Homo sapiens: one gene and its partners. The protein of the gene in region 3 interacts with the protein of the main gene of each other region in a pairwise test. Each region holds a gene or a part of one and is shown on either strand. Other genes may lie near its edges.

Region 1 (3,650 bases), on a different chromosome or scaffold from region 3:
CACAGCACCATGTCCTCCTCCCTTGCACCCATCACGTTTATATAAACTGTGTGTTTGAAGAGCGTCTGGCTTTTCCACTGAACTATAAGCTCCTCCAGGGCAGAAACCCTGGATTCACAGCAGCCCGCAAGATGCCAGCACAAGGCCAGCTCAATTCATCCTAAATACCTGCCGCCTAGGAATGAATGGCACAGCTCCTGATGAGTTAGTATACAGCCACTAAAATCACACTACAAAAACGATGCTATAATATGGAAAATACTCACGCCAAAAATGTTTAAAAAAAAAAAAAGCAAGACCCCAAATTCTGTATGCAACACTCACATAAAAAGCACAGTAAGGAAACAAACTATGCAGTTTAGATAAGGGTGAGACGTGGGGAATTTCCTTTCATAGTCCTCCTCTTCAGTTTTTTTCTGTTTTTTTGTTTTGTTTTGTTTTGTTTTTTGAGTCAGGGTCTCACTCTTACTCAGGCTGGAGTGCAGTGGTGTGATAACAGCTCACTGAAGCCTTGACCTTTTTGGGCTCAACTGATCCTCCCACCCCAGCCTCCCGAGTAGCTGGGACTACAGGTGTGTGCAACCATGCCCAGCTAATTTTTTATTTTTTGTAGAGACAAGGTCTTACTATGTTGCCTAGGCTGGTCTTGAACTCCTGGGCCCAAGGGAACCTTCTGCCTCGGCTTCCCAAAGTGCTGGGATTACAGGCGTGAGTCATCACCATGCCCAGCCTCTCTTCTGTATTTTTATATTTTGTTTATCAGCATTCTCTGAGCATGCATTATAAAATATACATTAACTTAGGCTGGATCCAGTGGCTCATGCCTGTAATCCTAGCACTTTGGGAGGTCAAGGCAGGTGGATCACTTGAGGCCAGGAGTTTGAGACCAGCCTGGCCAAACCCTGTCTCTACTAAAAATACAAAAATTAGCCAGGCATGGTGGTGCACGCCTGTAATCTCAGCTACTCAGGAGGCTGAGGCGGGAGAATTGCTTGAACCCGGGAGGTGGAGGTTGCAGTGAGCTAAGATTCGCCACTGCACTCCAGCCTGGGTGACAGAGGGAGACTCTGTCTCAAAAAAAAAAAAAATACACACACACACACACACACACACACACACACACATTAACTTAATAACATAAATTTCCATAGATTCCTTTAAATCTCAAATAACCATCATCACTAGTTATGGGAAAAGACCAAACACAAGTGCAACTGGTACTTACCTTGGGGGAACAATGCTCAGCAGGCCCCTCTGGCTGTGAGGGCAGAGACTTGGGGGTCTGCCATGTACCTGTGCCTCTGCCACTCTGGAACCAGCCCTTCACAACATACCCCAGACCCACCTCTCCTGGAACCCCTTGGAGGGGATGAGGCCGGCTCGAAGGTTGGTGTCCCCGACTCGCTTGGCCTGCCACCACGTGGGGTCGTCCTGGCTCACCACCTCCAGGACCTGCCTGCGCTGGAAGGGCAGGCCCGCCTCCTGGCAAGGGATGGCCCGGTCCTCCCGAGGGTTGTAGTGGAAGAGGGCGCGCATGAACACCTGCACAAGGAGGGCTCTGGTGAGGCGGCCCTTCCCCAAGTGAGCACAGACAGGTCATTGTCACATCAAAGGCCACATGACAACGACCATCCACACTTAGGAGGACCAAGTGGCCTTTCAAATAGAAAGCTACTTGGAAATACACTGCACGTATGTTCTTAACTGTTCTTCAACCATTTGGGATACTATAGTCAGGAAGTCCATCAAGAATCAGAAAATTAATAAGCCCCATGACTGAATGTCTCTTTCCTACCTAAATATTTCCTTATTTACTTGACCAGCTGTCCTCATAACAGCCTCTTAGCATACACACAGCAACAACTAATCCTGGGAACAAAAAGTAAAGGCAAGCACAATTTCTAACTCAAGTGTTATTTTTGATACGCCAACTGCGCTGACGGAAGGCAGCAGCCATCTGTTATATAAGTAATCTAGATGTTTGGGTAAGAACACAAATATCAACAAAACTACTGTTACTGACTCCTCACCATCACTTTTCAGTGGGTAATTGACACCCACAGCTCTTACGGCTCAATCCTGCCTCGTCTGCCATAGACTCGGCCAAGCCCTAATTCCCCCCTCTGCTCTAGAGTCACCCTCTCTGGAGAAGATGGTGTGAGGACACAGCATTTTTCACACTTCCTTGTTCTCTTCGATAATTTAGTGGCATGGATTAACTTTATTTATTTCTATTTTCAGACCATTAGGGCCCAATCACTTCAGTGGCAAACAGGAAAAAAAAAGCAATCAGGGGTCTTCCTCAGACAGATACAAACTCTATTCCTTTGTATGCCAACCAGAAAAGATTCCACTGGACAACAGTAAGAACTTTCTGGCATATGTTGTGGGGACAGATGCCCTTAACCAGCCACAGATGTTACCAGGGTCCTAAGCACTCAGAAGAATGTAATCTTAAGTGGCCAGCCCAAATCAAGCATCTGGATCAAGAAGAAATATTCAAGAAGGACAGGCTGGGGGACAGGCTACTCATTTTGTCCTTTAGGAAAACCAAGTTCTCTTCCTCAAAGAGGTTTCCTCAAGTCAGAACCCTCAAAGTTGCATGTGCGGACCACATTCGCTTGTCCTAGGAAGAATCACTTTCCACCAGGTAAGAGGAAATATTATGCCCTGGGATTTAACCAAAGAGCACAAATAAGAAACAGCTATATAAAGATTATTTCTTCACTTGCTGTAAAAAACTGTCATTGAAGACGTAGTCCATTACAAATCCACATTCTTCAAAGTATCGACTGACATCTCCTCTGTGCTAGATGCTGTAATGTTTCTTCTTTCATGCATTAAGTACTGAGAGGCAGGTATGGGAATGTCTTGAAAAACTGGCATGCTTCCTTCCATTCTCTGCTCAACAGTATGTAATTCATTATGCTCTCCTTTTTGCCTTGGCTGCCAGGAAACTCTACTATGAAATCAAAGTGATGCCCTCCTCTCTATCTCATCAACCACCATCTCACAGTTCAGGTCTTAACGTCTCACCTGGGCTTTTACAAGAGCCTTCTACCAGGCCTCCCTGCCTCCAACCTCTACCCACTCCACCCTCCTCCCCGTGGCTGCCTCACGGAGCTTTCTAAAACACAAATATAACTGCACCACTCCCATCCTAAAAAAAAAAAAAAAAGAGCTTATTAGAACCTATGGGATTATCTCTTGGGCTGTGGGATGCCCTCCCATATGCCCCAGGGCTGGACCATTCAGTGCAGCCTGGGCTGACTTCCAGCTGCCAGCACCTGCATCTCTTTGCCTAAGGACTTACTTTCTCTGGCCACTGGAACCTACTCATCTCTAGTCCAGCAGGCAGAAGTTGCTAGGAATTAATCCCCCGGGTGCAGCCTGGCAGGAGTTGGTATATAGATCGCCCAGCTCCCAGGGCCCCTGGGTGGGATGATGGAGGCGTGTGTTCTACAGGGGAAGAAGTAGTTCCCCAAGTTCCCAGCAGGACTAAGCTCCAGCTGCCCATAGTGGTAACCTGCTTGATAACACACCCTTAGTCAGATTGGCTGTCTTCCCTTTCCCAGTCCTGTACTGGTATTTCCTGGGGCCACTTCCCAAATAAACCATTTGCATTCAATCCTTGTCTCAGGGTCAGCTTC
Region 2 (3,650 bases), on a different chromosome or scaffold from region 3:
CATGGGCACCGCTGCACACCCAGGCCTCTCCCACTGCAGCCAGGCTTGCAGGAGGGCCTGCCAGGGAGCAACGTTCTGAGATGGCTCCAGTGAGCGCTCACAGGGGGCCCCCTAAGCCTTCCTCGAGTCCCTGGGGCCCAGCTGAAGGCAGGCCTTGGTGAAGGGAAGGGGAATCCCACTGTTCGTGGCCCCTAAGTGCGGGCCCTCGCCCCACTTCCCTGCGCAGGGACCTCACCCTCATCCATGTCATAGCGGAACTCCTCCTGGTCATACTCCCGGCTCTCTTCCCGGAGGACGTCTGCATCTTCATCTCCAGGCCTCATGTCCATCTCACCCTCGAAGCCCTCCAGCAGAGCCTGGGCCTCCTCCCCGGGTTCTCCTGCACCTGAGATAAAACACAAGTCAGAAGCCTGAGTTCCTGGGAAAAATGGAGCCTGCAGACCTGTGCAGGGCAGCTGTCCCCTGGGCTGCCGTGCCCCCACCCTCCCCCTCCCACTGGCAGCACCTCATGTTCCCCATCTCAACATCCACCCAGCCCAGCCTAGGCCTGGCCAGGGGAGCAGCCCAGTCCCCACTGTAGTCAGTGGCTTGGGGATGGGAGCAGGTAGTCTGATAACTTTCATTCCTGAGGGTGTTGATGAGACTCTTGAGAAAGAGAAGTCCCCTGGGGTTCCTGAGAGTGCCAGCCAGGGGAGCCAGCAGAGAGGAGAGCTGGGACAGAGGGCAGAGGCTGCCCGGCCATTCTGGGGGCTGTCCCGGAGCTTCCCAGTCACATGAGCCAAGAAATTCTTAGCAGCATGAGTATTCTTTCACGGAGGCCAATCGGAGTTGGCTTTCCTCCGCTTGCCATGGAAGGGATCTCACCCGGGGTAGCCACCTTCAACTTTCCCCAGCACATTAAGGACTTCCAGAAAGACCACTGGGTTGGACATGGAGGTGCCACACGGACCCTTCTTCAGGGAAGGGCTGTCCCCTCAGCTGCTGTCAGTGCCAGCCCGGGGTCACACCCACATTCACTCACTGACCTAGGTGAGGGGATAAGGGTCCCCGAGACGCCACAGTGCTCCCCATGGAATGAAGCAAGGTTGTGGAGGCCACACCTCCGCCTCTGTCCAATCAACTCTGTTTCTTTCCTCTCCCCTCCGCTCTCCGGGAGTGTCCTCCAATCCCAAAGGCTCTCCCTAATAACATCCCGCACACTCAACTGACCCAGCATCTGATTTTCAGAGAGTCCAACCACACCTGGCCTGAAAACAGGATGTCCACAACTCCCACAGCCCAAAGGCGCCCACACCCTCCATCCCACAGCCTGGGGATGCCCCACACCCTCTGTCCCACAGCCCGGGGGATGCCCCACACCCTCTGTCCCACAGCCCGGGGGTGCCCCACACCCTCTGCCCCCTCCACCCCACAGCCCGGGGATGCCCCACACCCTCTGCCCCCTCCACTCCACAGCCCGGGGATGCCCCACACCCTCTGCCCCCTCCACCCCACAGCCCGGGGATGCCCCACACCCTCTGACCCCTCCACCCCACAGCCCGGGGATGCCCCACACCCTCTGTCCCACAGCCCGGGGGTGCCCCACACCCTCTGCCCCCTCCACCCCACAGCCCGGGGGTGCCCCACACTCTCAGCTCCTGGAGCGTCTTGGCCAGGTCCATCCGTAGAGGTCGGCTTTTTGGGGAGAGTTGGTGTCCACAGGGCCAATTCAGTGATTTGGGTAGCTTTCCATTTTGGAACAACAGTTACTAATTCTTCCTCCTCTTCCTCTTCTCCTCTTTCCTATTTTAAGTGCAAAAATGTACATTTACCAACATTTGTGTCATCTTGGTCTGGAATATTAAAAGTGAGGGAGGAAGGACAAGTTTTGAAAGACAGGTTTTGGCTTGTGTTTCAGCCTTTTTAGGACGTCACTCAGGAATCAGACCAGTTGCTGACTATCCATGGTATAATCTCAGGGTTGAGAATGGATCTTGAAAGAGCCAGGGTGAGGAATAAAGTCTCCAGAGCAATGCTGGGCCAGCGAGCTTTATAATGGGTGCCACAAAAGGCTTTCAGATGAGCATGTCGCAGTCGCCTGCAATAGCTAAGACATGGCCAGGACTAAGTGGCCAGAACTGAGTGACCAGGAGTAAGTGGTCTTTTCAATTGTTCGGCCACATTTTGCAACTCTAATATAAAAAATCGTGTATTATATAATTATATGTCTATTGAGCTTAGTAGAAACATAATTATTTATATTATTCTTTATATAAATAATAAAAGAAACAGCCATTTGTTTTAGGCTTAGGCCTAAGAAGTTCCTAAGATGTCCATATGATATGGATTTGCATAAACGCAAAAGCTCAAGTGTCAAGGATTATGGGGAAAAATAAAATTCAAGGAAAGCAGAATGAGAGTTCATCAAGTCTGAACATGGAACACTTTGTAATAAAAAATGTACAATTCCGACAATGGTGAGCAGCCAACATGTGCCAATTTTGCCAAGCATATTTGCCTACTTCTCAGTTTTGTGACTATCACAAAATTCCAAAGATCTGAGCATCAGCACTATGACTATGGAACACTTCGCTGCCACATAGGTGATAATACCGATGACAGAGAGGGGCAGACACCTGCCTCTTCCACTGAGTCACTGGGAAATCAATTACTCTCTATTTTGGTCTCAGAGTGTTTGAATATGGCCACCCATGAAGGGTGACACCAATGCTGCAGGACAGGGTCCTCAAACTTGACTTAGATCAGAATCACCCAGAAAGCATTAAAAGACAGATTGCTAGCCCCACCCCCAGAGTTTCAGATTCGGCAGGTCTGGGATAGCGTCCAATAAGCTGCATTCCTAACAGATTCCCAGGTGAAGCTGACAGCACTAGTTTGGGAACTGCACGCCACTTTATGTATAAAACCAAGAGGTGGAACCCTTTCACATTGCTGGTGGGAACGTAAAATGCTGCAGCTACTGTAGAAAACATTTGACAGTTCTTCAAAAAGCGAAACAGCATCACCATATGACCCAGCAATTCCACTCCTCGGTATATAACCAAAGGAACTGAAAACAGAGATTCGACCAGATGCTTGCACACCAATGTTCACTGCAGCATTATTCATAATAGCTAAAATGTGGAAGCAACTCAATTGTCCATCAACAGACAAATGGATAAGCAAGAACCTTGAAAACGTCGTGCTAAATGAAAGAAGCCAGACACAAAAGGACAAATACAGAATGAATTCATCTATATGCGACATCTAGAATAGGCAAATTCATAGAGAAAGAAAGTAGATTAAAAGCTATCAGGGGCTGGGGGAGGTCGAATGGGGAGTTGTTGCTTAATAGGTACAGAGTTTCTGTCTGGGATAACGGACAAGCTCCAGAAATGCATCATTCTCACAGCTGCACAACACTGAACGTACTGAATGCCACTGAAAGCATGCTTTAAAATGGCAAATTTCAAACTCTATAAACGTACATATAAAACCATAATTTAAAAAGAAACAGGGAGTGAGCCGTGGGCTGCAGCTTGGCAAGCCCTACTCTAGAAGGGATACATTCCCCTTACTAGGGAGAGAGAACACGGAGGCCCTTCTGTTCCACCACCATCCTAATCCATCCCCACAGCACAGTGGGAGGCCTTCCACAAAGCCCTCAGGTT
Region 3 (4,384 bases):
ATTGTGTTCATTATCCTTAGCAAACTAACAGAACGGGAACAGAAAACCAAATACCGAATGTTCTCACTTATAAGTGGGAGCTAAATGATGAGAACTTGTGGACACAAAGAAAGGAACAACAGACACTGGGGCTACCTGAGGATGGTGGCTGGGAGGAGGGAGAGGATCAGAAAAAATAACTATTGGTACTATGCTTAGTACCTAGGGGACAAAATAATCTGTATAACAAACACTGTGACATGAGTTTACCTGTATAACAAACCTGCACATGTACGCCTGAACCTAAAATAAAAGTTAGAAAATAATAAGAAATGAATAAAATGTATTACAGCCTAAAAAAAAAAGTTGTTTTTTTTTTAAAGAGGTCGGATGTTGACCAGGACACACAAGCACAAACTAGAAAAAAAAAAAAAAAATGACAAAACTCAAACAGAGGATTGGAAATCAACTTTGCCAAGATTTGGATGCTTCTGCCATAGTTATTATAATAAGCAGACTGAATTGAATCATGTCATTTATTTTAAACTAATTGTAAGACAATGAATATAAAGTTCAAAAAGGTGTAAGCAGGTGATGGTTTTATTGGCAAACTTATAGGGGTAGTGTATGAAGTCATTTCAAATAACAGATTAAGTTGCTTTCCTTACAACTAAAAGCTTCAATTACTACATTTCAACTTTAATTTAACATCACATCTACATGTGAAGCTTTAATTTCAGGTCTGGAGCAGCTGTAAAATGAAAGTTACCACTCCATTCTAGTCCTTGGATATCAGTATATTCCCCTTCACCTTCCACCCTGCAATAGTAGAAAATAAGTTTTCCATTAACAAAGATGAATAATTTACAGTCCAGATATAAGATTTTCTAGCATAATATATACTATGTCTGAAGATTATATCCTCTACTTTCAAGCTTTGCTTTTAAACCCAGCATCCTGCTTTCATATCCTACCAAAAAAACAAACAAACCAAAAAAAAAAAAAAAAAAACCACATACTATTCCAAACAAAAACAAACAATTATTTGGTGTCCAAGATTTTAGGATCACATAATCTAGGTTCACACAAAACCAAAACAATGAGTTAAAAAAATGAAAAGTTTATATCGGTTATCTAGCTTAATTACTTCACTTATTCAACAAATATTTTTTCACTATCAATGATGTTTGAGGTGCTGTGCCACCGCACCTGGCCTCCAACAATTTTTAGAAACTATATCATAAAAGAATATTTAGAATTAACTAAATATAGTATTTAAGCAGCTGGGCACAGTGGCTCACGCCTGTAATCTCAGCACTCTGAGAGGCCGAGGCAGGCAGATCACTTGAGGTCAGGAGTTCTAGACCAGCCTGCTCAACACGGTGAAACCCCGTCCCTACTGAAAATACAAAAAATAGCTGGGTGTGGTAGTGCACATCTGTGGACCCAGCTACTTGGGTGGCTGAGGCAAGAGAATCGCTTGAACCCGGGAGGCAGAGGTTGCAGTGAGCCGAGATCACTCCACTGCACTCCTGCCTGGATGACAGAGGGAGACTCTGTCTCAATAAATAAATAAATAAATAAGTATTTAAGCAAACATACCAGAAAATAATCTTTTAGAAATGCAGTGATTTTTTTTTATTTTAAGCTTACCTATTTTCATTGAAATTTCCAGTATACTTTGCCCCATTTGGGAATGTGTAAGTCCCCAGTCCATGAAACATATTATCCTTAAATTGTCCTTCATATACTGCTCCTGAAAAATGCTCAAGTCTTCCAAAACCATTCATCTGTTTGTAACAAAGGAAATTACCTTAGAAACTAATCTTCAGTTTCCCAAGAACCTTTAAAAAATGTACAAATATAAGTCTATCATCTGCTAATTATTACTTAACCAACTTTGTATTGTCCTTTATTTCCATAGTATAAAGACAACATTTTTATCATTTTCCTTCATCTGTATCTATCTGTGAAGCCCAGTAAATTAAATGTTCTGGATCTGGGACATTTGAACATCAGGGGGTCCATGATGAAGATAAATAGGGGTCCTCAAGATACCCTGAATGTATCAGAAATCTTAAAGGGCAACCAGTTTAGTTAGTTCAGGAAACCAGTACAAAGTAGTTGTTAAGAATTCAAATTTGGATTTGAGCAGACCAGGGTATACTTTCCTGTTTTATCATTTACTAGCTGGGCAAGAAACCTGAGCCTGATTTTCCTCATTTGTAAAATAGAGTATTAATGGTACCTATCTCATGAGGTTATTATGAGGATTAAATGAGAAAATTATGTAACGGATTCAGCTTTACTCAATGAATAGGAGATGAGAAAGAAAGTAACGATGATTAGCTTTCTACAGTGAGTTTAATATTACTCATAAGTTAATATATGTTAATATGATCATTTGTTATTTTTATTATATAGTCTACTCATTATAGGAGTTTTTGATTAATGGTGAAATGCCTGGAATCACTAAACCTACAGGGTTATTTATCCACTGCCAATATTAAAAACAACAATAATACCTTGTCATCTTTCCAGCTTCCTGTGTAGACAATCCCATTAGGAGTGGTATGAATACCTATTCCATTTCTCTCGTAGATTCCAGAAGATGTTCTTGTACAGTCACCATCTAAACAGAGGAGAAAAACTGAAGATTATAAATGAGAATAGTTATGTCTGGGCCTAATCGCAACTACACCTCATGGGTTTCTTTGGCTCCCTAGCACTGAAACCAGTGAGACCAGAGATGAGAAAATCCATGGACACAGAACATCTTGTAACAATTGAGACTCAAGGGCCAGGAAGATTGACAGATCCCATAGGTTTCCAAGGCATTGGAATTTTGATTTTAAAAGCTCTTTATCTATTAGGATTTCTGTTATTTTAGTTAATAAAGTTAATATCCTAATAGTAGTTTTATAAAATTTAACAGTCTCAGTTTTTTATTCCTAAGCTATTTAATTTTCTATACAGAAAAAGTAATTGAAGCGTATACTTACCATACTTGTCTCCATTTGGAAAGATAAAGCTGATCTTATACACTTCTGAAGCTGTTTTAAAAGATTTAAAAACAGTGACATAAGTTTACTTTTTTTTCGATAGAGGCAAGGTTTCACTACATTGCCCAGGCCAGTCTCAAACTCCTGGGCTCAAGCGATCCTCCCGCCTCAGCCTCCCAAAGTGCTGGGGATGCAAATGTGAGCCACCACACCCAACCAAGTGTAAACATTCTTATGTCATAAGACCTATACCCAATGTGCTTTCAGCACTATCCAAATGGACTTACTTCTCAAGATCACATCATATCATGATTACTTGGTATTTCCATTGTCTAATGTAGGGTCCCGGGGAAATAAACAATTTTGCCTAGATGATCTCTTTTAAAATTTATTTATTATGATAGCTTTATTAATATATAATTCACACACCACAAAATCTACCCTTTAAAAAAATACAATTTGATTTTTTTAGTATATTCAGAGTTGTGCAACTATCATCACAATCTAATTTTAGAATATTTTAATCATCCCAGAAAGAAACTCTGTACACATTAGCAGTTACCCATTATGATTCCCCTCAAACACCCCTCACCCCACAACCCCAAACCCCTGGCAACCACTAATCTACTTTCTGCCTCAGGGATTTGCCTATTCTGGACATTTCTTATAAATGAAATCATATAATATGTGGTCCTTTATGTCTGGCTCGTTTCACTTAATGTTTCCAAGGCTCATCCATGTTGCATCGTGTATCAGTACTTCATTCCTTTTTATAGCCAAGTATATTGTATAAATATGTTGTACAGAAACAGCATATTTTGTTTATTCATTCATCAGTTCATGGACATGTAGGTTGTTTCCAGTTTGAGGCCATTATGAATAATACTGCTATAAACACTGATGTACATTTTCAAAACATACAGCTTCCTAGGAGTAAAAAAAAAATTGGTGTACAGATTTTTGTGTGGATATGTTTTTATTTCTCTTTGGTAGCCCATATGATTTACTGATTGTCCCACAGAGGTAAGGTGGAGTGAGGAATCTTTAAATTGGCAATAGGAAGAAATGGAAAATAAAGATAGCAAGTGGGGAAGGGCTGGTAGGTCCACACAGAATGAGACTGGAATGGAGACCAAGTGAAAAAGGAAGAAAGAGGACCGCAAGACTGAGGGGGACTCTGGGCCTCAGATCCCTGGACACTTACTGGACTAAAACTAGAAACTGTATTTTCCGATACTGAAGAAAACTTATGTAGAGACGGTATGCAGGCCCATCCTTCAGAATCACCTGAGATGCTTCTAAGTTTCTTCTCTCTACCCCACATCTACTGAATCAGTCTTTACGGGTGGGGCAAGGGAATTTAAAAATTAATTTAGGTACCACTTGAGAAAGGCTTGGAGGCT

The links.
Region 1: the proteins of MORN2 (region 3) and MPP3 interact in a two-hybrid assay, tested with the Homo sapiens proteins (one large-scale study listed by IntAct).
Region 2: the proteins of MORN2 (region 3) and RSPH1 interact in a two-hybrid assay, tested with the Homo sapiens proteins (one large-scale study listed by BioGRID and IntAct).

The regions. Positions count from the first base shown.
Region 1 is NC_000017.11:43,819,517-43,823,166, forward strand, and holds part of MPP3 (MAGUK p55 subfamily member 3), read right to left. Parts: intron 1,543-3,650; coding exon 1,346-1,542; exon of another isoform or gene 1,226-1,345; intron 1-1,225. UniProt on the Homo sapiens protein: Participates in cell spreading through the phosphoinositide-3-kinase (PI3K) pathway by connecting CADM1 to DLG1 and the regulatory subunit of phosphoinositide-3-kinase (PI3K). Stabilizes HTR2C at the plasma membrane and prevents its desensitization.
Region 2 is NC_000021.9:42,475,663-42,479,312, forward strand, and holds part of RSPH1 (radial spoke head 1 homolog), read right to left. Parts: intron 1,783-3,650; coding exon 1,629-1,782; intron 386-1,628; coding exon 236-385; intron 1-235.
Region 3 is NC_000002.12:38,878,827-38,883,210, reverse strand, and holds the end of MORN2 (MORN repeat-containing protein 2), read right to left. Parts: intron 3,033-4,384; coding exon 2,982-3,032; intron 2,612-2,981; coding exon 2,505-2,611; intron 1,770-2,504; coding exon 1,633-1,769; intron 799-1,632; coding exon 696-798; 3' UTR 502-695; downstream 1-501. UniProt on the Homo sapiens protein: Might have a role in spermatogenesis.